7 linked regions of the Homo sapiens genome follow. The protein of the gene in region 3 purifies or fractionates together with the protein of the main gene of each other region. This does not show direct contact. Each region holds a gene or a part of one and is shown on either strand. Other genes may lie near its edges. The genes, in order: GDI2, MKI67, SLC8A3, TAF6L, CSGALNACT2, EMC7 and TRAP1.

Evidence for each region.
Region 1: the proteins of SLC8A3 (region 3) and GDI2 purify together in Homo sapiens (affinity purification with mass spectrometry; one large-scale study listed by BioGRID and IntAct). This does not show direct contact.
Region 2: the proteins of SLC8A3 (region 3) and MKI67 purify together in Homo sapiens (affinity purification with mass spectrometry; one large-scale study listed by BioGRID and IntAct). This does not show direct contact.
Region 4: the proteins of SLC8A3 (region 3) and TAF6L purify together in Homo sapiens (affinity purification with mass spectrometry; one large-scale study listed by BioGRID and IntAct). This does not show direct contact.
Region 5: the proteins of SLC8A3 (region 3) and CSGALNACT2 purify together in Homo sapiens (affinity purification with mass spectrometry; 3 studies listed by BioGRID and IntAct, with this or other methods). This does not show direct contact.
Region 6: the proteins of SLC8A3 (region 3) and EMC7 purify together in Homo sapiens (affinity purification with mass spectrometry, with the first as the bait; one large-scale study listed by BioGRID). This does not show direct contact.
Region 7: the proteins of SLC8A3 (region 3) and TRAP1 purify together in Homo sapiens (affinity purification with mass spectrometry; one large-scale study listed by BioGRID and IntAct). This does not show direct contact.

Annotation. Positions count from the first base shown.
Region 1 is NC_000010.11:5,796,158-5,800,144, forward strand, and holds part of GDI2 (rab GDP dissociation inhibitor beta), read right to left. Parts: intron 706-3,987; coding exon 606-705; intron 1-605. UniProt on the Homo sapiens protein: GDP-dissociation inhibitor preventing the GDP to GTP exchange of most Rab proteins. By keeping these small GTPases in their inactive GDP-bound form regulates intracellular membrane trafficking.
Region 2 is NC_000010.11:128,105,795-128,109,781, forward strand, and holds part of MKI67 (proliferation marker protein Ki-67), read right to left. Parts: intron 3,630-3,987; coding exon 1-3,629. UniProt on the Homo sapiens protein: Protein that associates with the surface of mitotic chromosomes and acts both as a chromosome repellent during early mitosis and chromosome attractant during late mitosis.
Region 3 is NC_000014.9:70,164,822-70,168,808, reverse strand, and holds part of SLC8A3 (sodium/calcium exchanger 3 isoform D precursor), read left to right. Parts: intron 1-324; 5' UTR 325-386; coding exon 387-2,170; intron 2,171-2,298; coding exon of another isoform or gene 2,299-2,368; exon of another isoform or gene 2,369-3,987. UniProt on the Homo sapiens protein: Mediates the electrogenic exchange of Ca(2+) against Na(+) ions across the cell membrane, and thereby contributes to the regulation of cytoplasmic Ca(2+) levels and Ca(2+)-dependent cellular processes.
Region 4 is NC_000011.10:62,781,191-62,784,900, forward strand, and holds part of TAF6L (TAF6-like RNA polymerase II p300/CBP-associated factor-associated factor 65 kDa subunit 6L), read left to right. Parts: intron 1-703; coding exon 704-778; intron 779-922; coding exon 923-1,143; intron 1,144-1,265; exon of another isoform or gene 1,266-1,308; coding exon of another isoform or gene 1,309-1,502; coding exon 1,503-1,635; intron 1,636-3,710. UniProt on the Homo sapiens protein: Functions as a component of the PCAF complex. The PCAF complex is capable of efficiently acetylating histones in a nucleosomal context. The PCAF complex could be considered as the human version of the yeast SAGA complex.
Region 5 is NC_000010.11:43,151,641-43,155,627, forward strand, and holds part of CSGALNACT2 (chondroitin sulfate N-acetylgalactosaminyltransferase 2), read left to right. Parts: intron 1-3,256; 5' UTR 3,257-3,509; coding exon 3,510-3,987. UniProt on the Homo sapiens protein: Transfers 1,4-N-acetylgalactosamine (GalNAc) from UDP-GalNAc to the non-reducing end of glucuronic acid (GlcUA). Required for addition of the first GalNAc to the core tetrasaccharide linker and for elongation of chondroitin chains.
Region 6 is NC_000015.10:34,084,600-34,088,586, forward strand, and holds part of EMC7 (endoplasmic reticulum membrane protein complex subunit 7 precursor), read right to left. Parts: intron 3,535-3,987; coding exon 3,454-3,534; intron 1,768-3,453; exon of another isoform or gene 1,259-1,767; intron 1-1,258. UniProt on the Homo sapiens protein: Part of the endoplasmic reticulum membrane protein complex (EMC) that enables the energy-independent insertion into endoplasmic reticulum membranes of newly synthesized membrane proteins.
Region 7 is NC_000016.10:3,661,926-3,665,912, forward strand, and holds part of TRAP1 (heat shock protein 75 kDa, mitochondrial isoform 1 precursor), read right to left. Parts: intron 3,537-3,987; exon of another isoform or gene 2,535-3,536; coding exon 2,349-2,534; exon of another isoform or gene 1,638-2,348; coding exon 1,499-1,637; exon of another isoform or gene 1,043-1,498; coding exon 957-1,042; exon of another isoform or gene 721-956; intron 208-720; coding exon 62-207; intron 1-61.

The sequences.
Region 1 (3,987 bases), on a different chromosome or scaffold from region 3:
TGGCCAACATGGTAAAACCCTGTCTGTACTAAAAATACAAAAATTAGCTGGGCGTGGTGGCACGCACCTGTAATCCCAGCTACTTGGGAGGCTGAGGCAGGAGAATTGCTTGAACCAGAAGGCGGAGGTTGTAGTGAGCCAAGATCATGCCACTGCACTCCAGCCTGGGTGACAGAGCGAGACTCCGTCTCAAAAAAAAAAAAAGAAAAAGAAAACTTAGATCCTCTAAAATTAAAAAAATGTGAAAATTTTAAAACCCTACAAACTAGAAAAACATTAAAATAATGCTGTTTCAAAAGGCCCAGTTATTTAAGACTGTCATAAGCATCAACAGGTAAGTCTGTGCCAAAGGCTTACAATCTTGTTATGTATTATGCCACAGCATCATTTGTTTCTCCAGAACCAATTACTAGTAAGTCACAACCCCTTCCTTCCTTTCCTAACTTATTGACTCCAGACATCTAATGGACCATGTTACTCACCATGCTGTTTCATTCAACAAAATCCAGTTCCTCATACCCAGAATAGTACTCTGTCAAAAGTTAGTTTTGATATTAAAATTGTAATCAAAGTACTGTCATAAATTTAAGTTAGAAATTCTTTACCATTAGCCATAAGGAACTTGGGAATCAAGTCAACATTCCAGTCTCTTCCTCTCCCCATTGACTCGGGTGGTGATCCTGGTATTTTAAATCTTTTGTATAACTAAAAGCAAGGAAAAACATAGCCATAATGTTAACAAAATTTAATTTTTTATTACAATATGTACATATTTTTTATTAAGTGCTTTTAGTATAACTAAACACCACCATGCTAGTAAAGTATAAGGGCATTTCATCTTTTATCAGATAAAATTTTTAGCAAGGTCCAATATATATGTAAATTAATTACTAAACTCATAAATGTTAAAATTAACAAATATGGCAGAAGTAAGGTTTTTCACTAGCAGAAAAGAAAGAATATAAAACAAGGCCAGACGCAATGGCTCATGCCTGTAATCCCAGCACTTTGTAATCCATGAGGCGGGTGGATCCCTTGAGGTCAGGAGTTTGAGACCAGCCTGACCAACATAGTGAAACCCCGTCTCTACTAAAAATACAAAAATTGGCCAAGCATGGTGGCTCATGCCTGTAATCCCAAACACTTTGGGAGGCCGAGGCGGGTGGATCAGGAGGTCAGGAGTACAAGAAAAGCCAGGCCAAGATGGTGAAACCCCATCTCTACTGAAAATACAAAAATTAGCCAGGTATGGTGGCAGATGCCTGTAATCCCAGCTACTCGGGAGGCTGAGGCAGGAGAATCGTTTCAACATGCGAGGCAGAGGTTGCAGTGAGCCGAGATAGCGTGACTGCACTCCAGCCTAGTGACAGAGTGAGACTCCATCTCAAAAAAAAAAAAAAAAAAAAAAAAATTAGCGGGGTGTGGTGTGTGCCTGTAAGCCCAGCTACTCGAGAGGCTGAGGCAGGAGAATCACATGAATCTGGGAGGTGGAGAATCACATGAATCTGGGAGGTGGAGGTTGCAGTGAGCTGGGATGGCACCACTGTACTCCAGCCTGAGTGACAAAGCAAGACTCCATCTCAAGAAATAAATAAATAAAACAAGATTATTTGTCAATGACACTGTATAGTTCTCTATACGGACTGTATATGCAGAACTAGGGTGTCACTGACAAATAGCAATCATCTAAATTCATTCTCTCCCAAATAAAAAGCTATCAAAGGCTTAATTTTGCTTTTGTATTATGTAAGGAATTCAAAATAAACCTTAGATTCTTCCTAATCAGAAAAGATAATTAAAATTAGTTCTAGTTCATTTATAATTTTTGAGCTTTACTGAGGTATAACTGATACATAAAGAACTGCCTACTTCCTGCATACATTTTGGTGAGTCTAGACACAAGGTACACCCATAACATCACCATAAGGTACCAATCATATCCATCACCTCCAAAATTGTCCTTTTGTTCTTTTATGATGTTTTGTGGTAAGAATACTCAAATTAATTTATAATTCACATGAATTGAAATGAAGCTCAGATTTCAAAAAGCTTATAAAGTTAGAGAACAGTCACTTGAGCTCATGAATCCTACTGCTAAGGTGGAAAAGAATAAGCAAAATTAGTAAGTATTTATTCAATAAAAATTCTGGCTGGGTGCGGTGGCTCATGCCTGTAATTCCAGCACTTTGTGAGGCCAAGGCAGGCAGATCACCTGAGACCAGGAGATCGAGACCAGCCTGATCAACATGGTGAAACCCCACCTCTACCAGAAATACAAAAAATTAGCCAGACGTGATGATGTACGCCTGTAATTCCAGCTACTCGGGAGGCTGAGGCACGAGAATCGTTTGAGCCTAGGAGGTGGAGGTTGCACTGAGCTAAGATCGTGCCACTGCACTGCAGCCTGGGTGACAGAGAAAGACTCCATCTCAAAAAAAAAAAAAAGAAAAAATTCATGACTCCCTCAATACATCTGGGGAGAAAAAAAAGAAAAGAAATCTTACTCATTGTATTGAAGATCAGCTAAGAAATATACTAGGCCAGGCACAGAGGCTCACACCTGTAACCGCAGCACTTTGGAAGGCCAAGGCAGGCAGATCATTTGAGGAGTTCGAGACCAGCATGGCCAACAAGAAGAAATCCCCATCTCTACTAAAAATACAAAAAATTAGCCAGGCATGGTGGTCCACACCTGTAATCCCAGCTACTCAGAAGGCTGAGCATGAAAATCACTTGAACCCAAGAGATGGAGGTTGCAGTGAGCCGAGACTGCACCACTACACATCAGCTTGGACAACAGAGCAAGACTGTCTCAAAAAAATAAAAATAAAAATAAAATAAAACAAAATTAAGAAAAGAAAAAAATTGTGAGGAGATTTGTAGATTAAGAAAATAAAGAGGTGCCCAGGCATGGTGGCTCTCACCTATAATCCCAACACTTTGGGAAACCAAGGTAGGAGGATCACTTGAGGCCAGGAGTTTGAGACCAGCCTGGGCAACACAGAGAGACCCCATCTCTACAAAAAATAAAATAAGCCAGGCAGGTGGTATGCATCTTTAGCCCCGCTACTTAGGAGGCTGATACAGGAGGATCGTTTGAGCCCAGGAGTTCAAGGCTACAGCAAGCTACGATCGCACTGCTGCACTTCAGCCTGGGCAACAGGGCAAGGCCCTGTCTCTTAAAAACAAACAACAACAACAAAGAATAAAGCGCTCGGGCGTGGTGGCTCATGCCTGTAATCCCAGCAGTTTGGGAGGCCAAGGCAGACAGATCACATGAGGTCAGGGGTTCCAGACCAGCCTGGCCATCATGGTGGAACCCCGTCTCTACTAAAAATACAAAAATTAGCCAGGCATGGTGGTGCACGCCTTTAATCCCAGCTACTTGGGAGGCTGAGGCAGAAGAATCACCTGAACCCAGAAGGTGGAAGCCATAGGGAGGCGAGACTGTGCCACTGCACTCCAGCCTGGGCGGCAGAGCAAGATTCTGTCTCCAGAAAAATAAATAAGAGAATAAAGAGAAAATTATACCAAATACAAACAGCTACGTAAGAGATTACTGGGACCACTGGGAAATTTGAATATGGTTCTGGATATGATATAATGGTATTATGCTTATGCAGGAGAATGTTATTCTTAGCAGATGAATGCTGAAATATTTTGCTCAAGCCTCATGATGTCTTATCACTTTCAATGGATCAAAACCAGTAACAAAAAAAGAGACATGAAAAAAATACAGCAAACTTTAACTGCTGAACTCTGATGGAAGATTTTTTTATACATCGTATTATTCTTTAAACTTTTCAGTATTACTGAATATAGAAAAAAATCCTTTTTGGTAAGTATTGTCTAATAAGTCACTGATTAAAGTCATTGATGATATCTATCTCCCATAAGACACAGTACACATCATATCCATATACGTAGGTGTTCAACAAACCTCACGCAGAAAAACAATCAATATATTAAAACACACTGTGGAAATGC
Region 2 (3,987 bases), on a different chromosome or scaffold from region 3:
GACTGGTAGGACCTCTTCTTTCACACCTACTTTCCCCAAGGATATCTTGAGTCGTTGCTTGGAGCTTGTTGGGGTTTTGACTGGGTCTGGTTGTGGAGATTTGCAGGATACTTCTGTGATTTTGTCATCGGTCATTGATTCCTCAGTGTGACCTGGTGTCTGGAAGAGCTCTTTGAAGCCAGCCAGATCTTCTAGAGCCTTGGCCTTTTCTTTAGGAGTTTGTGGCCGTCTCTTGCTGCCAGGTAAATTTCCTAGCAGGTCCAGTTTCTCCACTGGAGTCCCCACAAATGTGTTGATGTCTTTCTCTTCACCTACTGCTGCTTTAGGCGTGTGCATGGCTTTGCCTGCTGATGGTGTTAGTTTCCTGAATGCTAAAAATTCTTCCTCTACGTCTGCTTTCTTGAGGCTTCTCTTGGGCCGTTGCTTTGTGTTTGTTGGGGTGTCCGCTGGGTCTGATTGCGGAGATTTGCAGAGTATTTTTTTGGTAGTTTTCTCATCAGTCGTGGGGTTATCAGTGCATGGTGTCTGGAAAAGCTCTCTGAAGCCAGTCAGTTCTTCTAGAGCCTGGGCCTTTTCCTTACGAGTTTGTAGCCGTCTATTGCTGCCAGGTAAATTTCCTGGCTGGTCCAGTTTCTGCACTGGAGTTCCCAAAAACGTGTTGATGTCTTTCTCTTCACCTACTGCTGGTTTGGGTGTGTGCATGGCTTTGCCTGCTGATGGCGTTTGTTTCCTAAATGCTAAAAATTCTTCTTCAGTGTCTGCTTTCCTGAGACTTCTCTTGGGCTGTGGCTTGGAGCTTGTTGGGGTGTCCACTAGGTCTGGCTGTGAAGCTCTGTAGGATACTTTGGTAGTTTTTTCGTTAGTCATTGATTCCTTAGTGTGACTTGGTGTCTGGAAGAGCTCGATGAAGCCGGCCAGGTCTTCAGGGACTTCAGACTTTCCCTTAGGAGTTCTCAGCTGCCTCTTGCTGCCAGTTAGACTTGCTGCTGAGTCTAAGATCTGCTTTGGAGACTCCATAAATGCTTTCATGCTCTTACCATCTCCTGTTGGCTCTGTGTGTGTGTGTGTAGTCTCTCCTGATGTCTGTGTGAGCTTGCCAACTGCTAGGAGCTCTTCTTTCACGCCCACTTTCCCCAGGGATGTCTTGAGCCGTCGCTTGGAGCTTGCTGGGTTTTTGTCTGGGTCTGGTTGTGAAGATTTGCAGGCTACTTTGGCAGTTTTATCGTTAGTCATTGATTCCTCAGTGTGACCTCGTGTCTGGAAGAGCTCTTTAAAGCCAGCCAGGTCTTCTAGAGCCTGGGCCTTTTCCTTAGGAGTTTGTAGCCGTCTCTTGCTGCCAGTTAAGTTCTCTGTCAGGTCCAGTTTCTGCACTGGAGTTCCCATAAATGCGTAGATGTTTTTCTCACCACTTACTGCTGGTTTGGGTGTGTGCATGGCTTTGCCTGCTGATGGTGTTCGTTTCCTGAGTGCGAAGAATTCTTCTTCTACGTCCACTTTCCTGAGACTTCTCTTGGACTGTGGCTTGGAGCTTGTTGGTGTGTCCACTGGGTCTGGTTGTGATCTGCAGGCTATTTTGGTAGTTTTCTCGTGAGTCGTGGGCTTGTCAGTGCATACTGGTGTCTGGAAGAGCTCTTTCAAGCCAGCCAGGTCTTCTAGGGGTTGGGCCTTTTCCTTAGTTTTTGGGTGCCTCTTGCTACCAGTTACACTTGCTGCTGGGTCCAGTTTCTGTTTTGCAGTTTCCCTAAACGCGTTGATGCTTTTATCCTCACCTCCTGGTACTTTATCTGTGTGTGTGGTTTCCCCTGATGTCTGTGTGAGCTTCTTCAGGGCTGAGAGCTCCTTCTGTACGTCCCTTTTCTCCAAAGGTGTCTTGGGCTGCCTTCTTGTGCTTGTTGGGGTGTCTGCTGATTCTGGTGGAGAAGATTCGCAGGGCATTTTAGTAGTTTTGCCAGCAGCCACTGCTTCTTCAGTATGACCAGGGGTCTGGAAGAGCTCTTTAAAGCCAGTCAGGTCTTCCAGAGCCTGGGCCTCTTCCTTAGGAGTTTGTGGCCGTCTCTTGCTGCCGGTTAAGTTCTCTGTCAGGTCCAGTTTCTGCACTGGAGTTCCCACAAATATGATGATGTCTTTCTCTTCACCTACTGATGGTTTAGGCGTGTGCATGGCTTTGCCTGCTGATGGCATTAGATTCCTGCACGCTAAGAGTTCTCCCTCTACATCTGCTTTCCTGATACTTCTCTTGGGTCGTTGCTTTGTGCTTGTTGGGGTGTCCACTGGGTCTGACTGTGGAGAGTCGCAGGGTATTTTAGTGGTTTTACCAGCAGCCACTAATTCCTCGGTGTGACCAGGAGTCTGGAAGAGCTCTTTAAAGCCAGCCAGGTCTTCTAGAGCCTGGGCCTTTTCCTTAGGAGTCTGTAGCTGTCTTTTGCTGCCAGGTAAAGTTCCTGCCAGGTCCAGTTTCTGCACTGGAGTTCCCATAAATGCTTTAATGTCTTTCTCATCACCTCCTGCTGGTTTGGGCGTAAGCATGGCTTTCCCTGCTGATGGTGTTAGTTTCCTGAGTGCTAAGAATTCTTCCTCTACATCTGCTTTCCTGAGACTTCTCTTAGGCCATTGCTTTGTGCTTGTTGGAGTGTCCACTGATTCTGGTGGTGGAGATTTGCAGGCTATTTTGGTAGTTTTCTCATCAGTCATTGATTCCTCAGAGGGACCTGGTGTCTGGAAGAGCTCTTTGAAGCCAGCCAGGTCTTCTAGTGACTGGGCCTCTTCCTTAGGCGTTCTTGGCCACTTCTTCATTCCAGTTACACGGGCTGCTGGGTCCAGGATCTGCTTTGGAGACTCCTTAAACGTTCTGATGCTCTTGCCATCTCCTGCTGGCTCTCTGTGCGTGTGCGTGGTCTCCCCTGACGTCCGTGTGAACTTGCCGACTGCTAGGAGCTCTTCTTTCACACCTACTTTCCCCAGGGATGCCTTCAACTGTTGTTTTGTGTGTGTTGGGGTGTTTATTGGTTCTGGTTGTAATGACTGGCAGGGCATTTTAGTGATTTTGCCTTTCTCACTCTTTGGTGCCTTGGCATGATCTTGGGTTTGGAGGAGATTCTGGCCACGTGCCGTGTCTTTCATGAGTTCTGTATCAGGCAAGCTCTTGAGGTCTGTCAGGTCAGACATTGGTGCACATTTCTGCCCCCAAGTTCTTGATCTCTTCATTGCTTTCATCTTTTCATCGTTTTCTTTTAATTCAATATTTTCCTTATATGTCTCAAAAGGTCTTTCTATTTCCTTCATCTCTCCTTCTCTCCTTTGTTGTAGTAGTGTTGCCTTCTGACCTCTTTTTAGGATGCACTCAACAATTTCTGTATTTGTTTCTTCACTCTTACTTTCCACAGGTAGCTTCTGTATATTCCTGAACTCTGTAGACCTTCCTGACCTGTTTGCAGTGGATACTGTTTTTGAAGGCTCTGTCTCAGTATCTGAAGTTTTTGTCTCCAGAGAAGTCATTTTGTAGGTGTTCCTGGGCGTTTTTGCTACGTTTCCATTTTCTCTAATACACTGCCGTCTTAAGGGAGGGCTTGCAGAGCATTTATCAGATGGCTGTTTTGCTGCATTCTGTGCACTGAAGAACACATTTCCTCCTGAAATAAAAACATACACAATAAAAACATTCTATTAGTGTCTCATGTCAATCGAGTATTACAGCCTCATAAAATATGGTAAAAAACTAAATATTTAGCTTCGTATTCACTGAACGACATGAGGCTACTTATGTGTCTATAAATCTGTCTTATAAGAGCCATGCACAATTAAGAATAATGTTATTTGGTGCTATAGTGGGGTCATCATTAAGCAAAGTTAGATGCTGAAATGATCATAGAAGGTAAAAATACTGCTTCAGAAGGTTCCTCCAAAGGTTGCCATGCCCTGTGTCATTGACGTAAATATAGGCATTTTTTCCTTCAAACATTAGAAACAAACAGCTGTTTCTTGCCTTAA
Region 3 (3,987 bases):
ATGGCCTATTTTAAGTTGCTTCTTGAGAACTCTCACAGGTAATACCAGTTTGGGAGACAGGACTTGAAGGCTATTGCTGCATTTCCATCCCCAGTATTCCCAGCTATTTCAAGCCATTTTTCAACGGAGTCTCCACCAGATGGTTTGGAGGACAGAGCAGCTATTTGTGCCTCCCATTGACATCTATTTTTCCAAGTGAGAGACTGCCCCATATGTTAGTGCAATATGTCACTGGAGGTGAAGCATCAGTTGTATTGGTGGGAACCTGCCGTTTGCTGTCCCCTTTTTCCTCATGCCTTTTCCTGCCTCTCTGATCTTTTCTAGGTCTCTGGCCTATCAGGAGGACAACTGGTGCTGCAATAGAAGCCAGTGGCTAAGTCTCGTGTATGGCGTGGTTAAGGTTGCAGCCTCTCACCTCTGCCTTCCTCCATTTTGGGCTGGTTACCTTTGTGCTCTTCCTGAATGGTCTTCGAGCAGAGGCTGGTGGCTCAGGGGACGTGCCAAGCACAGGGCAGAACAATGAGTCCTGTTCAGGGTCATCGGACTGCAAGGAGGGTGTCATCCTGCCAATCTGGTACCCGGAGAACCCTTCCCTTGGGGACAAGATTGCCAGGGTCATTGTCTATTTTGTGGCCCTGATATACATGTTCCTTGGGGTGTCCATCATTGCTGACCGCTTCATGGCATCTATTGAAGTCATCACCTCTCAAGAGAGGGAGGTGACAATTAAGAAACCCAATGGAGAAACCAGCACAACCACTATTCGGGTCTGGAATGAAACTGTCTCCAACCTGACCCTTATGGCCCTGGGTTCCTCTGCTCCTGAGATACTCCTCTCTTTAATTGAGGTGTGTGGTCATGGGTTCATTGCTGGTGATCTGGGACCTTCTACCATTGTAGGGAGTGCAGCCTTCAACATGTTCATCATCATTGGCATCTGTGTCTACGTGATCCCAGACGGAGAGACTCGCAAGATCAAGCATCTACGAGTCTTCTTCATCACCGCTGCTTGGAGTATCTTTGCCTACATCTGGCTCTATATGATTCTGGCAGTCTTCTCCCCTGGTGTGGTCCAGGTTTGGGAAGGCCTCCTCACTCTCTTCTTCTTTCCAGTGTGTGTCCTTCTGGCCTGGGTGGCAGATAAACGACTGCTCTTCTACAAATACATGCACAAAAAGTACCGCACAGACAAACACCGAGGAATTATCATAGAGACAGAGGGTGACCACCCTAAGGGCATTGAGATGGATGGGAAAATGATGAATTCCCATTTTCTAGATGGGAACCTGGTGCCCCTGGAAGGGAAGGAAGTGGATGAGTCCCGCAGAGAGATGATCCGGATTCTCAAGGATCTGAAGCAAAAACACCCAGAGAAGGACTTAGATCAGCTGGTGGAGATGGCCAATTACTATGCTCTTTCCCACCAACAGAAGAGCCGTGCCTTCTACCGTATCCAAGCCACTCGTATGATGACTGGTGCAGGCAATATCCTGAAGAAACATGCAGCAGAACAAGCCAAGAAGGCCTCCAGCATGAGCGAGGTGCACACCGATGAGCCTGAGGACTTTATTTCCAAGGTCTTCTTTGACCCATGTTCTTACCAGTGCCTGGAGAACTGTGGGGCTGTACTCCTGACAGTGGTGAGGAAAGGGGGAGACATGTCAAAGACCATGTATGTGGACTACAAAACAGAGGATGGTTCTGCCAATGCAGGGGCTGACTATGAGTTCACAGAGGGCACGGTGGTTCTGAAGCCAGGAGAGACCCAGAAGGAGTTCTCCGTGGGCATAATTGATGACGACATTTTTGAGGAGGATGAACACTTCTTTGTAAGGTTGAGCAATGTCCGCATAGAGGAGGAGCAGCCAGAGGAGGGGATGCCTCCAGCAATATTCAACAGTCTTCCCTTGCCTCGGGCTGTCCTAGCCTCCCCTTGTGTGGCCACAGTTACCATCTTGGATGATGACCATGCAGGCATCTTCACTTTTGAATGTGATACTATTCATGTCAGTGAGAGTATTGGTGTTATGGAGGTCAAGGTTCTGCGGACATCAGGTGCCCGGGGTACAGTCATCGTCCCCTTTAGGACAGTAGAAGGGACAGCCAAGGGTGGCGGTGAGGACTTTGAAGACACATATGGGGAGTTGGAATTCAAGAATGATGAAACTGTGTAAGTAACCTTCCTGTATTCTGCCCCTCCCTGACCCCATCTTTTGCCATCTCTTTCTGTCTTTCTGTACTGCACTTTACAACATTTCCTTGTGTTTGTGTTAATGTCAAACTTTGGTTCCATCACAGGTATGCAGGATCAGCAGACACCACTGGACAGGTTCTGCTTCCAAACTCTTCTTCAGTTTTCTCACTTTAAATTGTTTCTGGGCAAGGAATCCTGTGACAAGAGCTAAGGACACAAAACATTTTCTTCTCTGAAACACAAAATGATAGCTGGTGGAGCTGTGGGATGACAGAAGTTTTGTGATATCAGATTTTGGAGAATTCTTGTGACTAAGAAGGACTAGAGAACTGCTTGGGCCTCTTCTTCCTCCCTTCCTCATATGAAGGGTATCTATGAGCTTTGAAACCAATCCTTTCCATTCTGGGCAGCAATAGCCCATCAGAACATTCTAAAGAAAACAAGTGGCATTGGCTTTGTTCCCTGGTACTATATTGCCAGTCTCACTGTGTAACCAGATTCCAGGCACGTCTTCTTTAATTTGGAAATTGCAAAATTGATAGAAATTTAGCAATCTTTTTAAATGACCATAGACTATTTAATGGTGTGAGGCTTGCCCAGCCTAGTTGAATTGAGTCAGTATGGTTTGGATACTGGAAAGTATCTTGGAGAAGCAGAGCTCCCAGGGCAGTGGCTACTTGTCTTTAGTCACAGGTCTAAGCTCCAAAATCTGGTGAAGCAGTGAAGGAGAAACATCCTAGGAATTGTGGGAGGAAATATATCTTCTGTGTGGTCCTCTCTTTTCACAGTCTAGGACTCTCCTGAAGTACCTCTTCTTGGGCTACTGCCCCATTCAGCCCTTCAGAAACTGTGGGTATTACACTTCTGTCACCTCTATTACCCTAAGGCCTCTGCCCATTGAACCCTCTTGCAAATTGGTTATTCTGTCCTTTTTCCAGTTGGATAGCTTTAAAAGGGAAAGCAGAATGACTTTCCTCAGGATTTGTAGCTTATGAGAAAGTAGACTTTCTTGGGTGGCCTAGAAGGTTGGAGAAGACAAACGGGAACTTCCTCTGAATGACTGAACATATCCACAAATAATAAGCGTGGCAGGAGATGGTGTGAAGAGTAAAAGGAGCATATAGGAAGTTGTGTGTGTGGGGTGTCTGTTTCAAGAACCTGCTAATTATACCTTCAGTAAGAAATGAAGCCATACAACCTCTAGAAGAGGAGGAGGAAGGAACTCATGGAAAAGTGGGGAGCCATAGAAGCTAGGGAGAGGTGTCCTAGGAGTGCTTCTGCCCAGGTCCAGCCATGAGACAGAGCTCAAAAAGAGCTGGGCACTGCTGGTGACAGAACTGAGTGACCCGGGGGATCCTGCATCTGTTCTTACTCAATCCCTTCTTAATAATGTGACTTGGGGCAGGTCATTTATTGGTTCTGGAACTTAACTTTCTGATATGCAAACTGGGAATAACAATACTTTCCTTGCCTGGAGGCAAGGTCAGTCCTTTTTGCAGTTCCTTCCAGCTCTAAGATTTTCTGAACCATAGACATAAGCACTCAGTGTAGGTCATATTCGCACTTGCCAAAAATGGATCAGGGGATATTGTCTCCTGAAGGGAAATGGCCATTGACAAATTGATTTATTAGAGCTCTGTTTAGTCATTTTGCTGGGAAGGATAATCATTTGTTAACGTAAGTAGAAACCTGTGCCTTCTGGAGAATACTATCCATTTATATGTACTCTGGGGAGAGTGTTTATACATACAAATGAAGGACAGGGCTTCACTGGGAAAACAAACTCCATGGAA
Region 4 (3,710 bases), on a different chromosome or scaffold from region 3:
GAGCCACTGCACTCCAGCCTGGGCGACAGGGCGAGACTCCATCTCAAAGAAAAAAAAAAAAGAAAAAGAAACTGAAAAGTCTATTCCTCCACCTACTTTTTTTTCTCTGTATCAACTATGATTACTCTCATAAAAACCTAAGTGGTATTATATTAAGCATCTGGTTTTATAGATTGCCTTTCTCAGTTAAAAATGTTGGATGGCCGGGCGCGGTGGCTCACGCCTGTAATCCCAGCACTTTGGGAGGCTGAGGTGGGCAGATCACGAGGTCAGGAGATCGCGACCATCCTGGCTAACACGGTGAAACCCCGTCTCTACTAAAAAATAGAAAAAATTAGCCGGGTGTGGTGGCAGGCGCCTGTAGTCCCAGCTACTCGGGAGGCTGAGGCAGGAGAATGGTGTAAAACCTGGGAGGTGGAGCTTGCAGTGAGCCAAGATCGTGCCACTGGGCGACAGAGCGAGACTCGGTCTCAAAAAAAAAAAAAAAAGTTGGACATTCAGGTTGTATTCAGGGCCATATGCAGGTATATGTGAATGAGTTTCTGTAGGTTACATTTATAGAAATAGAATTGCTAGATCAAAGAATATGAACATTAAAATTGTAAAACATGAATAAGGTGATACACTGTCTTCCAGAAGAATACCGCATTCATGTTTTACAATTTTCTGGTGGATCCAATGCAGTCTGGGCCCTTCCTTTTAGGTTGCACTCCAGGACTTGCAGACGAACTCCAAGATTGGGGCACTCCTGCCTTACTTTGTTTATGTGGTCAGTGGGGTAAGTGACCAGGCTGGGACAGGGAGAATGTTTTATAAGGAAGAGATGACCCAGCAGGTGTAGGGCTCATGGCAAGTGCTGTCAGAATGGTGGGCTCCTGCCTGTCCCCTCATGTCCCTGTAAGCTACCCTCTTCTCCCAACAGGTGAAATCTGTAAGCCATGACCTGGAGCAACTGCACCGGCTGCTGCAGGTGGCACGGAGCCTATTTCGTAATCCGCACCTGTGCTTGGGGCCCTATGTCCGCTGTCTGGTGGGCAGTGTCCTCTACTGTGTCCTGGAGCCACTGGCTGCCTCCATCAACCCCCTGAATGACCACTGGACTCTGCGGGATGGGGCTGCCCTCCTGCTCAGCCACATCTTCTGGTAGCCACTGGGCCTAAACCTGCGGGTGGGATTGCTGCAGAGCCAAGTGGGTTGGGGTAAGGAAATGGGGCGAAGCCTCTGGCTTTGAGAGTCTATGAGAAGATGGGGAACCTTTTCCCTAGGAGCGTCCTAGCTGGTGTGCTGTGACACACTGGGATTCTGAAAATGGATTACAAATACGCCAAGGTATTGGTTCTTCAGCCCTCAGGTCCTAGGCCAGTCACCCCTGGCAGCCTTCTTCACTTAACCCCAGCACTCCCGAGTGTGCTGTACAGATGCTATTCTCTTTGTGTTGTCTTGTGCCCTGTTGGGTGGCACCATGCCTCATTCCCCTCCCTAACTGAATGGTGCTCCCACAGGACTCATGGGGACCTTGTAAGTGGCCTCTATCAGCATATCCTGCTATCCCTGCAGAAGATCCTGGCAGATCCTGTGCGGCCGCTCTGCTGCCACTATGGAGCCGTGGTGGGGCTGCATGCTCTTGGCTGGAAGGTGAGCACCCTGGCCTTTCTCACACAGCCGTAAGAACTCCCATTTGTGTTAGAAAAATAGTACTTGTGCATCGTTATCTCCAAAATAGTGTGTGCCTGCCACTGCCATGTATTGAGTTCTGGCCTTAGGCCAGGCTCAGTGATACTTGACTTTCTGAATGTAAATGTCTTATCCTTTCGAAAGTCCTATATGGCAGATACTGATGTCCCCACATTTTATAAATTCCTGCCCGTTCTATATTATCACATTAAGAAATACCTTCAATTCCTGTTGTATTGAGCATTTTACACATGAATAGATACTGAATTTTGTCATACCTTTTTAGCATCTGTAGAAATTATCAAATGATTATACGCTTTAAAAATTAGGTGTTGGCGCCGGGCGCAGTGGCTCACGCCTGTAATCCCAGCACTTTGGGAGGCTGAGGTGGGCGGATCACAAGGTCAGGAGATCGAAACCATCCTGGCTAACACGGTGAAACCCCATCTCTACTAAAAATACAAACAATTAGCCTGGTGTGGTGGCGGGCGCCTGTAGTCCCAGCTACTCGGGAGGCTGAGGCAGGAGAATGGCGTGAACCCGGGAGGCGGAGCTTGCAGTGAGCCGAGATTGCGCCACTACACTGCAGCCTGGGCGACAGAGCGAGACTCTGTCTCAAAAAAAAAAAAAAGTTAGGTGTTGCCACTGTGATAATATTAAGAGGGAGGATCTTTTTTTTTTTTTTTTGAGACGGAGTTTTGCTCTTGTCGCCCAGGCTAGAGTACAGTGGCATGATCTCAGCTCACTGCAACCTCTCCCTCTTGGATTTAAGCAATTCTTCCACCTCACCCTCCCGAGTAGCTGGGATTACAGGCACGTGCCACCATGCCCACCTAACTTGTATTTTTAGTAGAGAGGCAGTTTCATCATGTTAGCCAGGCTGGTCTCAAACTCCTAGCCTCAAGTGGTCTGCCTGCCTCGGCTTCCCATAGTGCTGGGATTATAGGCATGAGCCACCACGCCCAGCCGATTATGTGGTTTAATATGACAAGTTCTATTCTGTTGATATGCTAGGTGTATTAATGGATTCTTCTTCTGAACCACTTTTGTATACCTGGAATAAGTTCTATTTGTTGCTTTTGAGATTTTTGTTTTTTTGAGATGGAATCTTGCCAAGATGGCGCCACTACACTCCAGCCCGGGCGACAGAGTCTCACACTGTCGCCCGGGCTGGAGTGCAGTGGCGTGATCTCGGCTCACTGCAACCTCCACCTCCCGGGTTCAAGTGATTCTCCTGCCTCAGCCTCCTGAGTAGCTGGGACTTACAGGCACGCACCACCAGGGCCAGTTAATTTTTGTATTTTTAGTAGAGACGGGGTTTCACAATGTTGGCCAGGATGGTCTCAATCTCTGGACCTCGTGTTCCGCCCGCCTCGGCTTCCCAAAGTGCTGGGATTACAGGCGTGAGCCACCGGTGCCTGGCCATATATATATATTCTTAATTTTTTTTTTTTTTTTGAGACGGAGTCTCGCTCTGACACCCAGGCTGGAGTCCAGTGGCGCCATCTTGGCTAACTGCAACCTCCGCCTCCCGGGTTCACGCCATTCTCCTGCCTCAGCCTCCCGAGAGTAGCTGGGACTACAGGCGCCCGCCACCATGCCCGGCTAATTTTTTGTATTTTTAGTAGAGACAGCGTTTCACCGTGTTAGCCAGGATGGTCTCGATCTCCTGGCCTCATGATCCGCCCGCCTTGGCCTCCCAAAGTGTTGGGATTACAGGTGTGAGCCACCGTGCCTGGCCTATATTCTTAATTTTATCATCAATTTATATTGGATTTTTATCAGATGGTTTTTCTGCATCTTTTGAAATGATCCGAAGGCTTTTCAGCTTTTGTTTTCCAATGTTATTACAGATTTCCTGATAGTAAACAATCTTTATAGTTCCATGATACACTAAACTATGTCATGGGATAGTCGTAAAGAAAAAACCCAAAGCTTTTATTGGACTGTAATGCATTTTAATTTACTTGTGGGTCTGCTAAATTTTAAAAGGGTTTATATTCAGGAGTGAAATTAAACATGTTTCCTCTCATGTA
Region 5 (3,987 bases), on a different chromosome or scaffold from region 3:
TCTGGAGTTCTCTCTGTGTGCAGCTGTATCCACTCTGGTACTATATGCTTTAATCCTAGATACCTTGGTCTCTTCAGACTATGAGCTGCATCCCATGAACTCAGGGAATCTGCTGGGCTCTGCTTAGGTTCCCCTCCTTGTGTGGCTCAGAAACTAAGGCAGTAAGCTGGCAACCACTTGTTTCTTGTTTCTCTGGGGATCACTGTCCTTTGTTACCTGATGTTAAATATCTTGAAAATCATTGTTTCATATTTTGGGTTTGTTGGCAGGAAAAGTTGTTTGTTTGTTTTTGGTTGTTTCAAGACAACCAAAGAGAGCAAATCTGAGAGTAAATCTGGCCCGTTACTTCATCTTGGTCGTAAAAGGAAGTCAGTTTTTTAAGCAGTTTTAGAGAGTTAGAATTGATGGCTTGTAAGGTTTCTTTCAATCCTGAGATCTTTGGCTTCATATTACATACCTTTAACAGCTTATTTTCCCATCTTCACATTATCCTTTTCTCTCCTCAAAACACTTAACTATCTGCATTTGTGCTTAGAAGGCTTGTTGGGATTAACTCTGGGCTGTGAATGAACCGTATTCATGATACAAACACATTTCATAGAATGATGACAATCAAGATGTAACAACAGAAAAATGTTTTCTATAATATTCTTAATATATTTATATGATAGAACAGCTATAATGTAATCTTCTAGATTATGGCCAAAGAGTTTCTTTCGGGAACTAGGCAAATAAGATTTTAATTGAAATCTTTCATTTTTAATAACCACAGAATTATGCAACTTTTACATTCTGAAGTAATTACAGTATCCTTTCATTTTATTGGAAAATATTCAACTGTAATATTAAGTAGGATATCTCAAAACCTGTATTTCCCTTAAAGGGAAGAGGAAGAAAAATGACCTTAGCTTTTTAACACTGCCACTGATAATTTCCATTCTATTTTATTGAAAAGTAAACCTTCAGTAGTGACCTATTGTCTGAGTTATAGCTCATAGTCTAAAATACATTGTGTATATAAAGAAAACATATGAGGTACCATATTAATAAAAGATAGTGGTAGTTCTGTTACCCAGTTTCACTTCAGTTTTGAGTATAACATGCTTAAGTATGTATATCTTTATTAATTAAAGTATGTATATCTTTATTATACAAGATTATGTCTCCACATTTTCAGTTCTTTTTCCTAATAAATGGGCTAGTAATAGTTAAAACAGATACCGCTAGGTTTATCTTTTAAATAATGAAATTCAAGTGTTTTCTTATGCTAGGGATTATGGTTTTGAGGTATGGTTAAGTCCTGGAAATAATACTAGTTATTTTTTGATTAGATGGTATTTCTTAAAGCCAACTATTTTTTTTCTGTTTTTTTCTACATCACTCAAACAAGATTTATAATCAGTAAGAGAGATGCTGTAATAGTAAAAGACTCCCTTGGCCAGGCGCGGTGGCTAATCCCAGCACTTTGGGAGGCCGAGGCGGGCGGATCACGAGGTCAGGAGATGAGACCACGATGAAACCCCGTCTCTACTAAAAATACAAAAATTAGCCGGGCGTGGTGGCCGGCGCTTGTAGTCCCAGCTACTCGGGAGGCTGAGGCAGGAGAATAGCGCGAACCCAGGAGGCGGAGCTTGCAGCGAGCCAAGATCGCGCCACTGCACTGCAGCCTGGGCGACAGAGCAAGACTCTGTCTCAAAAAAAAAAGGACTCCCTTGTAGTGAGTTAAATTTTTCAAGATACTTGGTTATCATTTCGTTTACTAAAATAATAAATGACTAAGGAGAGTTAAGACCATTATTTGTGGTATATTGGCCATAAGAAGTTTTCTTCTGTCCTATGTTTTATACAGACATGTTACCAAAAAAAAAAAAATACGCATTGCAGCATTTGCCACAGAAAGCATCCAGGTTTTTCTACTCATTAAAAAAGTGGCTAGGACTGATAACCTGTAGTGATCTTCCAGGTTTTGCTGCAGTGAGAAAACCATTACTGTTAAAAACCTGCTGTCATATCACATTATCCTTCTCAACAAGCACTTTGTTACAATGGAAGTTCTCTTTGCAGTGGAGTCCTCCTTGCCTCCCTTGTCCTAAGTTAAACCTCTATTTTTAGAGTTAAGAATCATTAAAGACATGGAAGAGTTCGCACAACTGGTTGTGGCATGAACGATAGCATGTAATTTTATAAATGTATAAATGGTTTTTGAATTTTTTTCTCTGCTGATAAGGATGATTAAATTCTTCATGTTTTTTCTTTATATAGACTCCAAACCTTTCTAGACTTGTAGGAAATCTGTTGATGCATAATACAGTGGAAAGAATTATGTGATCTAATGTGCAAATAATCTACTGGAGGACATTGGATATAAAAATGTTTTCTTAATGTGTTTTTCAGATGTCTGTGAGCTTTTGAAGTTGTTCTTTCCCCCACTTAATTTTAAGTCTCCTAGATTGGCTGAGCTGAGCAGTAGAAATTAATGAGGTAGAATGCTTGAGTTGAATAAACTGGGAGAAAATCTCTCTCTCCAGTAAACCGTTATTACTGTAACAGAAACAGTTTCTATAAACTCAGTTCCCAAATGGTCATAAGCTTTAGTTGGGAAATGGTGCGGTAATTGAAATACTATGTTAATAAAGAGTTATAGGCAATATAATTTTCAAATAATTAGAGAACAGTAGAATATATGTAATACAGACTATGCTGACGTAATTTTAATGTTTCTTTGATTCAAGTTATAGCTGTGTAGACATAATAGTTAAAAGTATTATACATAGTTTATTGTTTTTTAAGGTATTTTAAAAAATTCTCCCAGGCCAGGCTCAGTGGCTCACACCTGTAATCCCAGCACTTTGGGAGGCCAAGACAGGCAGATCACCTGAGGTCAGGACCAGCCTGGCTAACATGGTGAAACCTTGTCTCTACTAAAAATACAAAAATTAGCTGGGAGTGGTAGGCAGATGCCTGTAGTCCCAGCTACTCAGGAAGCTGAGATGGAAGGATCACTTGAACCCAGGAGGCAGAGGTTGCAGTAAGCCAAGATTGTGCCACTGCATTCCAGCCTGGGTGACGGAGTGAGACTCCATCTCAAAAAAAAAAAAAAATTCTCCTAGTATTTACTGAATATTCTAAATTATATTAGTACCTCTCATAGTTCTCTGCATGTAGTAGTCACGTAGCTAAGTTTACTGAAGCCACAAACAAATTTGATATCCTTAAGGGAACAAAATTCTGATTGATTCTGATCTGTGTCTTTCAGAAAAATCACTACCAATATAATGGATTTTATATATCAGATTGCTTTATTCTGGATATCATGGTAACAATACAGAAAGTATACATAATTTCCCATTTCTGCAAGTAGTCATGACTGCTGAAGAAAGAAAAACTTAAAGCTACGGCAGAATTATTTTATGGAAATTCTGATTTTGTTTTTAATTTTTGATAACTTTTTACTAAAGGTATGAACACACAAAGAGCTTATTTTGTTAGGCAAATACACATTAATAAGAATGCCTAGAAGAGGACTGATTCTTCACACCCGGACCCACTGGTTGCTGTTGGGCCTTGCTTTGCTCTGCAGTTTGGTATTATTTATGTACCTCCTGGAATGTGCCCCCCAGACTGATGGAAATGCATCTCTTCCTGGTGTTGTTGGGGAAAATTATGGTAAAGAGTATTATCAAGCCCTCCTACAGGAACAAGAAGAACATTATCAGACCAGGGCAACCAGTCTGAAACGCCAAATTGCCCAACTAAAACAAGAATTACAAGAAATGAGTGAGAAGATGCGGTCACTGCAAGAAAGAAGGAATGTAGGGGCTAATGGCATAGGCTATCAGAGCAACAAAGAGCAAGCACCTAGTGATCTTTTAGAGTTTCTTCATTCCCAAATTGACAAAGCTGAAGTTAGCATAGGGGCCAAACTACCCAGTGAGTATGGGGTCATTCCCTTTGAAAGTTTTACCTTAATGAAAGTATTTCAATTGG
Region 6 (3,987 bases), on a different chromosome or scaffold from region 3:
AGCAATGATGCAACATCATACTCAGTAGTACTTCACCTATATATCATTAGTAACTATTTTCCATATCTCCTTTATACCACTAGACATTTTGACTCTTAGTAAATGTCCAATAAATGACTGCCTAGGGTTTGATTCTGCTTGCCTTTTTTTTTTTTTATTATTATACTTTAAGTTTTAGGGTACATGTGCACAACGTGCAGGTTTGTTACATACGTACGCATGTGCCATGTTGGTGTGCTGCACCCATTAACTCATCATTTAACATTAGGTATATCTTCTAATGCTATCCCTCCCACCTCCCCCCACCCCACAACAGGCCCTGTGTGTGATGTTCCCTTTCGTGTGATTCTGCTTGTCTTAATAAAGAACACTTTTTTCTGATACTGAATATATTTGATCATATTCCTCTCTTATTTTATGTTTTCTGATTAAAGTGATTTCTTATTGTTTTAATGAGTACATTTTTAAGTTCATGCTTCCTTTAGATGCATATAACCAGAATATTAATTTTTAACTATATATCAAGGTATCAGTACAGTTTGGAAAATAAGTGCAATATTTCTAAGAATTCATTTATAAGCCTCAGTAGTAAATCTATGAATGCTGTATGGCTTGCATGACTTCAATTAGACTCTAAAGCAAGCAACACACTGTTACAAAGAAGTCATTGGCAAAACAGGATAGGACTTGGCACTTTTGAGTATTTGTCCTCCCCTTTAATTGAGCCAAAAATCTATAAAGTACTGTTTGATAGTTATATAATATTAATGTAACATCTGCTTCATTTAAATTTTAAGTGACATTCTCAAAGTGAACTTAAAATTGACTTTAGTTCATTCATACATGAAAAAGATAGCAAATACTATATTATCTATCATTTCTTTCATTTTTTTCTTTTCTTTTTTTTTTTAGGAGACAGTGCTCAGGTGATCTTCCTGCCTCAGCTTCCTGGGCAGCTGGGACTATAGGCACACAGCACAGCACTAGGCTTCCATTTCAAATTGAACACTGTTGGGATATTAGCTTGAGCTTTTCCCACAAAGGTAGAATTGATTCCTAAATTTTAAAGGAGAAGTTGCTTTTACAAATAAGGCTAGCGAAAGAAATATTGTAAACATAAATCAAGTATGTTAACATGCCCCAATAATTAAGAAATAAATGTATATGGTAACAGCTCTTGAGTCCCTGCAAACATATATCAACTCTATTTTTGAATCTGTTCAATTCTGAAGCTCCCCTTTTTTTTTTTTTTTTTTTTCAGTTTTTGTGGTTTTATTTAAACACAAATAAAACATGCATGAGAGCCGTTGATTCCTTTTCCTCACTGTGGAGCCTGGCATTGGGACTAGTGACTGTGATGGCCAGCTGGGCTGCTCTTTCCAGATGGTTTTGTGGTTCTTGGAGGAAACACTGTGAGTAATCTCAGCACGGTAACATTTGTTGCAGATCAGCAGTACTTCCAGCTCCTTGATGTTGTAGACCAGGAACTTCCAGAAGCCACTGGGTAGTAAGTACTTTGTTTCTTTGCTGCTCCCATAACCAATGTTGGGGATCAAGATCTGGCCCTTGAATCTTCTACGAACACTGTTGTCAACACCTCTAGGTTTCTGCCAGTTAAGCTAAATTTTGACATATTGGTCTGACTGGTGCCAGATAAACCTCTTAGTTGTCTTTTTGATGATCTTGGGCTTCACAAAGGATCTGAGGGCAGCCATGATGCCAAGTAGGAGATGGTGCCACCTCTGCAGGCAGTGCCAAGGAAGAGAGCTTCTGAAGCTCTTGAATCAACTTTTTAAGATGCTTACTATGTGCAAAGCACTTCACAAGGAATGAACTTTTTTTTTTTTTAACGGAGTTTTGCTCTTATTGCCCAGGCTGGAGTGCAATGGCACGATCTCAGCTCACTGCAACCTCTGCCTCCCAGTTTCAAGCGATTCTCCTGTCTCAGCCTCCCAAGTAGCTCAGATTACAGGCATGCGCCACCATGCCCGGCTAATTTTTTTGTATTTAGTAGAGACGGGGTTTCACCATGTTAGTCAGGCTGGTCGTGAACTCCTGACCTCAGGTGATCCACCTGCCTTGGCCTCCCAAAGTGCTGGGATTACAGGCCTGCGCCACCGCGCCCGGCCAGAATGAACTTTTAATCAAATGTGACTTCTGATGTTTCCTTCTACTGATGCCACAGTTAATTGGCTTAACATATACAAGGAATGCACAGGATGTATTACTTTCAGTCTAACACTGAAGCAAAAATGCAAACATTCACCAATAAAACATTTTGAAATATCAAAAACCTTTCTTTTCCTATGAATCTTTTTCTGCCATTCCTGCTTTGAATATACCCCTTATTACCTTCCACAGAACATAATCACCTACTACCTTAGCAAACATTTTTATTTACCTTATTTCTTTAAGAAATAAGACAAATTTCTATTAAGAAAAAAGAAAAGAAAAAGTCACAAAATCCCCTGATAGCAAGAAGAATATTTGATAAATCCATTCTATTTTCTACATTTAACTGGGACTGAGCCTACTGATGACAGGTATGGCCTATAATTCATTTCTGTATCTCCAGTATCTAGACCCTAGAAATTGATAAATGTTTACTCAGGAATGAATAAAATGTCACCACATCTATATACTAAATAAAATGGGGAACCTTGAAACTCAGAAGATACTTGTTGATGGTTGAACGGAAAAATGCATGATGGTTTTTTGAAAAAATGAAGAGTTCAAATAGAAGCCAATATTCAAAGAGAAAATGTGGTGGCACTAAATTGGAAGCATCCTACTTAGCAAATCCTCTCCCTCTGCAGAACCAGTATGGTTTTGTGGAACAGAATTCAAAGGTCACTCTTCTACTTATCCATCCCCCTTGGTCTATCTGTGTGTCTGAACACATAAACTGAGTATGTACTCTGAAGAGAGTTTTGTAAAGTAAAGGCAGATCACAGGAACAATCACTTTGTAAAATATTTAGATTCAGCATACCAGAAGTATTGTACATTTCAGCTATTTAAAAAGTAAGGCACACAAAGAGGCTAGGATGCAGTAAGATGTTTTAGCTACATAAAGAGATCCAGGCCAGGCAGAACTAACAATTTATCTAGTCTAATGGAAGCAACTAATTAAAAGCCATAAACATGATACTATGTTAATACAACCTCTAGATTAATTTGGCTTGGGAACTAGAATAAAATTGAGAAAAACTAAGCTACCCAGCTACGATGGGACAGAGCAAACATCACAATACGGTTCAAAAACCCACAGGTGGGGCCAGGCATGGTGCCTCGGACCTATAATCCCAGTGCTTTGGGAGGCTGAGGCAGGTGGATAGCTTGAGCCCAGGAGTTTGAGGCCACTCAAACTGATTGTGCCACTGCATTCCAGCTTGAGCAACAGAGGCTCTATCTCTTAAAAAAAAAAAAATCCATAGCTGGACCATCATCTTACCCGTCTCATGTCAGGATCACTTGTGTTGACCACTTTAGGCAGAAGCACAAATATCAATAAAGGAAGAACCATCATCATAACCTGCAGAAAAAAAAAATCCAGAAAATGTTTTTCCCCCACTTTACAGTTAATAGAACAAAAACTGCACTTAACAACCAATGGTAAAATTAAAGATTTAAACGTTGTCTATACAATAACACTAGTAGCAACCACCGCAATTCTACTGAGCCAGTTCTGATGATAGCAAGGGGCTGTCTGTCTGACTATGGTGGACTATTATAGAATATTAAAGTTTTCTGTATGTATGTTTGGACTTTATAGACACCTCACTTCATAGTTGTGCCACCCACCTATCTTTTTGCAGAGTTACAGTGTTATTTAACACAAATAGTTTGCAAATGGAACTATCTATTCCCTTTTTTTTTTTTTTTAATCTATAGTCTGGCAATGGGATTGGTGATCTGATGGCAAGCTAACTGCTCTTTTCAGGTGACTGTGGTTCTTGGAAAACTGACCTACTTTAGCAGACCAGTT
Region 7 (3,987 bases), on a different chromosome or scaffold from region 3:
ACACCACACACAGGATTCTGGGGAATCCCACAGGCTGGAAGAGCCAGGAGCGTGGCCTCACCTGGGGTTGATCTCCAGCGTGGGCTGCAGGAGCTGTGCGCGCTCCTCCTGGGTCTTGGCCAGCTGCTGCATGCGCAGGAAGTGGCGGGCAGCCCCCATCTCCAGCACGGTGACCATGGCAGGGTGGGTGTCCAGTCGGAGGGTCACCTGTGAGCAAAGCCCGGGGTTGAGGGTGATAGAGGTTCCCAATGTGAGAGGGCTGGCAGGATCTTACCAGGGGTGAAGGTCACCCAGACCACGAGGTAGCAGGCGGGGTCTCAAGGACTCCCCTGGACCAGCGCTGCTCCCTCCCCATTACCCACTAACTTGTGGGCCCTGAGCTGATGCCCCACGCAAAGATACTGTGCCCGAGGGGCTCCACCACCCTGGTGCCCCGCTGCTGCCTCCAGGAGCTGCCCGAATCCATCGTCCTCTGCTCCATGCCAGCCCACCCTGCATGAGGCCCCTTCCTCCAAGTGACCATGCATGGGACGCTCATTTCTCACTCTGAGCTAGACAGGTTGGTGGGGGGAGTCTTAGCTCTCTGAAGCCCACCCAAAACCCCCGACTAAGCACCCAAGTGAGCATGTGAGCTCCTGAGGGCTGGGGTAGCATGTCCCTTGTTTGGAACCCCCACGTCCTCAGCCATTGCAGCTCCCACTCAGGATGCTGGTTTTTCAGTTCTCAGTTCACACCTGCTCTGGAGCAGGGCTGGGAGAAAGACACGGCCTTCCTGCCTCAGCGGCACTCCCGAGCAACACGTGCCGAGCAGGGACCCACAGGGTCTCCACCTGACACCAAGGGCTTCTGCTGCTGCTGGAAGGACACCCAACGGGCCAGGTACTGGGAGCCACCAGCTGGCCAGCCTGTTAGGGACACTGCGGCCAAGTGGTGGTCCATCCCCGGGAAAGCCTCACCTTCACGTTGGTGACACGCGACCCCAGCACATTTCTCATCCAGGCCATGAGCTCCTCCGTCTCCTTCTCTGATAGGCACTCGGCGGCTGCGGAAGAGCAGGCGACAGGGAGCTCAGGCCTGCATCCCAACTCCCCGGCTTCCATGGGGGCCACGCAGCATGCTTCCAGCTCCCACCTCCTCTCCCACCAGGATGGAGACACAAGCTAGCAAGATGCTTTTCATCTAAAAGTAAAACCTCAAAGGATGCTTCAGGTTGCCTGAGGCCCATACAACTTGGTTAGGGCTTTAAAAAAATACACAGCCTCTCAAGAAGCTGGGCCAGCTCCAGAAGCCACCGTGGCAGGAGCACTGGACAGACCCCTGATATCTAAACCAGGAGGCACCTTCCTCCAGTCACCAGGGTGCTCCCACAAGGCTCTTCTCGGGGGTGGCTGAGCCCAGGTCAACTGACGAAAACCCAAAGGAAGCCCTCGCTGCGGGGCAGGAGAGGCGTGCGGGGAGTGGAAACCAGCCCCACGCCTAGAGAGCAGGGGATGCCGACCTGGGGACCTGTCCTCAAACTTCTCCTCCTTGTAGTGATCCACGACTATGTCCGTCTCCACAGAGATCAGCTTCTTCTTGTCAAACTCACGAAGGTGCAGCAGGGTGAGCTCATCAAACTGCTCAAAGCAGAAGAGAACCTGCAGGTGGCCAAGAGCAGCTCCATCAGACCCCGGGGGCCTCCAGCCACCACAGAAGAAAGGATGAGGGCGGCAGGAGGGCTGGGGGAGCCAAGCGGGCCACACTGGGGAACACCGGGGCAGTTGGGGTTCCTAGGCCTGCATGACAGTTACTACGACACCTGGGTCTAAGGAAGGCTCTGACTGCCTTCAAGGCAGAAGCACTCCACGCATAAAGAAATCCACATGTGGCTGAGTGCAGTGGCTCACGCCTGTAATCCCAGCACTTTGGGAGGCCAAAGCAGGCAGATCATGAGGTCAGGAGTTCGAGACCAACATGGTGAAATGCCGTCTCTATTAAAAATACAAAAATTTGCTGGGTGTGGTGGTGTGCACCTGTAGTCCCAGCTACTCAGGAGGCTGAGGCAGGAGAATGACCTGAACCCAGGAGGCGGAAGTTGCAGTGAGCCGAGATCGCACCACTGCACTCTAGCCTGGGCGAGAGAGCAAGACTCCATCTCAAAAAAACAAAAAACAAACAAAAAAAACCACATGTGACCTCCAAGTGGGAAACAGCCGTCACAGTCGGTCCGGCCTCTGTGCCCGTGACCCTGACCCACTGTGCAGCCCTGCCCGGAGTCTTGGGCAGGTTCACCCAGCACAGAGCTGAGAAGGTCAAGACCCTCCCCAGGTTGCAGCCCCCGGAGCCCGCCCCACCCACCGCTCACCCACCTCTGTGTCTTTCTTCTTCATGGCCTCATAGTAGGGTGAGTGCTCTGCCAGGTGACGGTTGGGGGCGCACAGGTAGTAGATGTTGCGGGTGCCGGCCCGCATGCGGCTGGCGTATTCTGAGAGGCTGGTTAGCTGCCCGGAGGGCAGCGCCGAGGACTCGTAGCGCAGCAGCTTTGCTATGTCCTCCTAGAAGGGACGGGGCAGGTCACCACTTATTCCAGGCCCATGGGCTCAATGTTGCCCAACTAACTGGGCGCAAACCCTCCGATGCCCATGGCCTCCTGGCACTCCAGGCTGGCCCTGACCCGAGGGACGGTAGTGGACTCGGGGGTTGTCCGAGAGCAGGCCTTGCTCTGCCCATCAGGCCCCTTTTGGGAGCTCTGGGGGCTTAGGAAGCACCTCCTGCCCCAGGTGGCCCAGGGGCTCTCCAGGGAGCTACGCGCACCACGCCCTGGGAGGGGACCCCACCCAACAGCAGAGCCCGGCCTGGACCCAGCGTCTTCCCTCTGCCCTCAGTGACAGAGTCAGTCTCTGGTGGGCACACGGACACGGGTGAAGTCCACGGTTCCCGGCCCTCCTCACAGCTGGCTATGGCAGAGACTGGCTTTGCCCAGTGGGTTTCAGTGGGATTTGGAGAAGGGCCCTTAGGGGAGGGGTTTGCCCTCCTCCCCATCAGCTGAACGCAGCTGTGACCTCTAGAGCTCATGGGAGCTGCAGCTGGAAGGACGCAGGGGGAAAACAGAAAGAGGGAAAAGCAAGGAGCTGGACACCCAACCAGCAGGGCCCAGGCCACCCCTGCACACATGGTGGGTCTGCATTGATAAGACATGTCACACGTGCACACCTACAAAGACCTAGAAATGTCTCTGACTCTTACCTGTGTGCTGTTAACTCAAATGAAGATAAAGGAGAATGAAGAGGCCTGTGTCAGAAGCTGCCGAAGTCGGCAAACAACCAGAACACGGCCTCCTTGGGACCCCACACACGTGGTCACCCTCCTCCTGCTGCTGGGGAGAAGGGACACCAGCACGGGATGGGCTCCTGGGATGAAATGTTCTGGGGTTACAGTGGAGGCAGCCACACCACACTGTGAATGCACTAAATGCCACTGAATTTTACGTGTTAAAAGGTGAATTCTGTGAATCTGATGCTATGTAAGTTGTATCTCAATAAAAAATGGACAAAAAATGTTTATGGAACAAATGTTTCGTTTTTCAGCCATCCACTATTGGATTAACTGAACGACTGGCCCCTGTAGCATAGTATTTGGAGACTGATATCCAGTACATGATGAATAGTCCCTCAACAGACACTGAGACCACCCACTTCCCCACCCACGGGATCGGAGTCCTTGGCTTGTCCCACCTGTCTGTGGCTCCCCAGCCCCCAACATCCTCTGAGGGGAGACAGTGTGTGCACGCCCTCTTCCTGCCACTCCCTGGGCTGCACCTTCACACAGCAGTGAGGCTGAGCCCTTCAGAGCACAGCACAGCACTGGTGGGAGGGTAAGGATGTGCCTGGAAGGTGCCAGAGGCCCAGAAGCCTGGCCTTCCATTTCCTGACCCTGGTGGCAGCAGCAGCAGCAGCCAGGGTACCCAGCTGCACCGTCGCCACATCAGGGGACACCTCCACCAGCTTC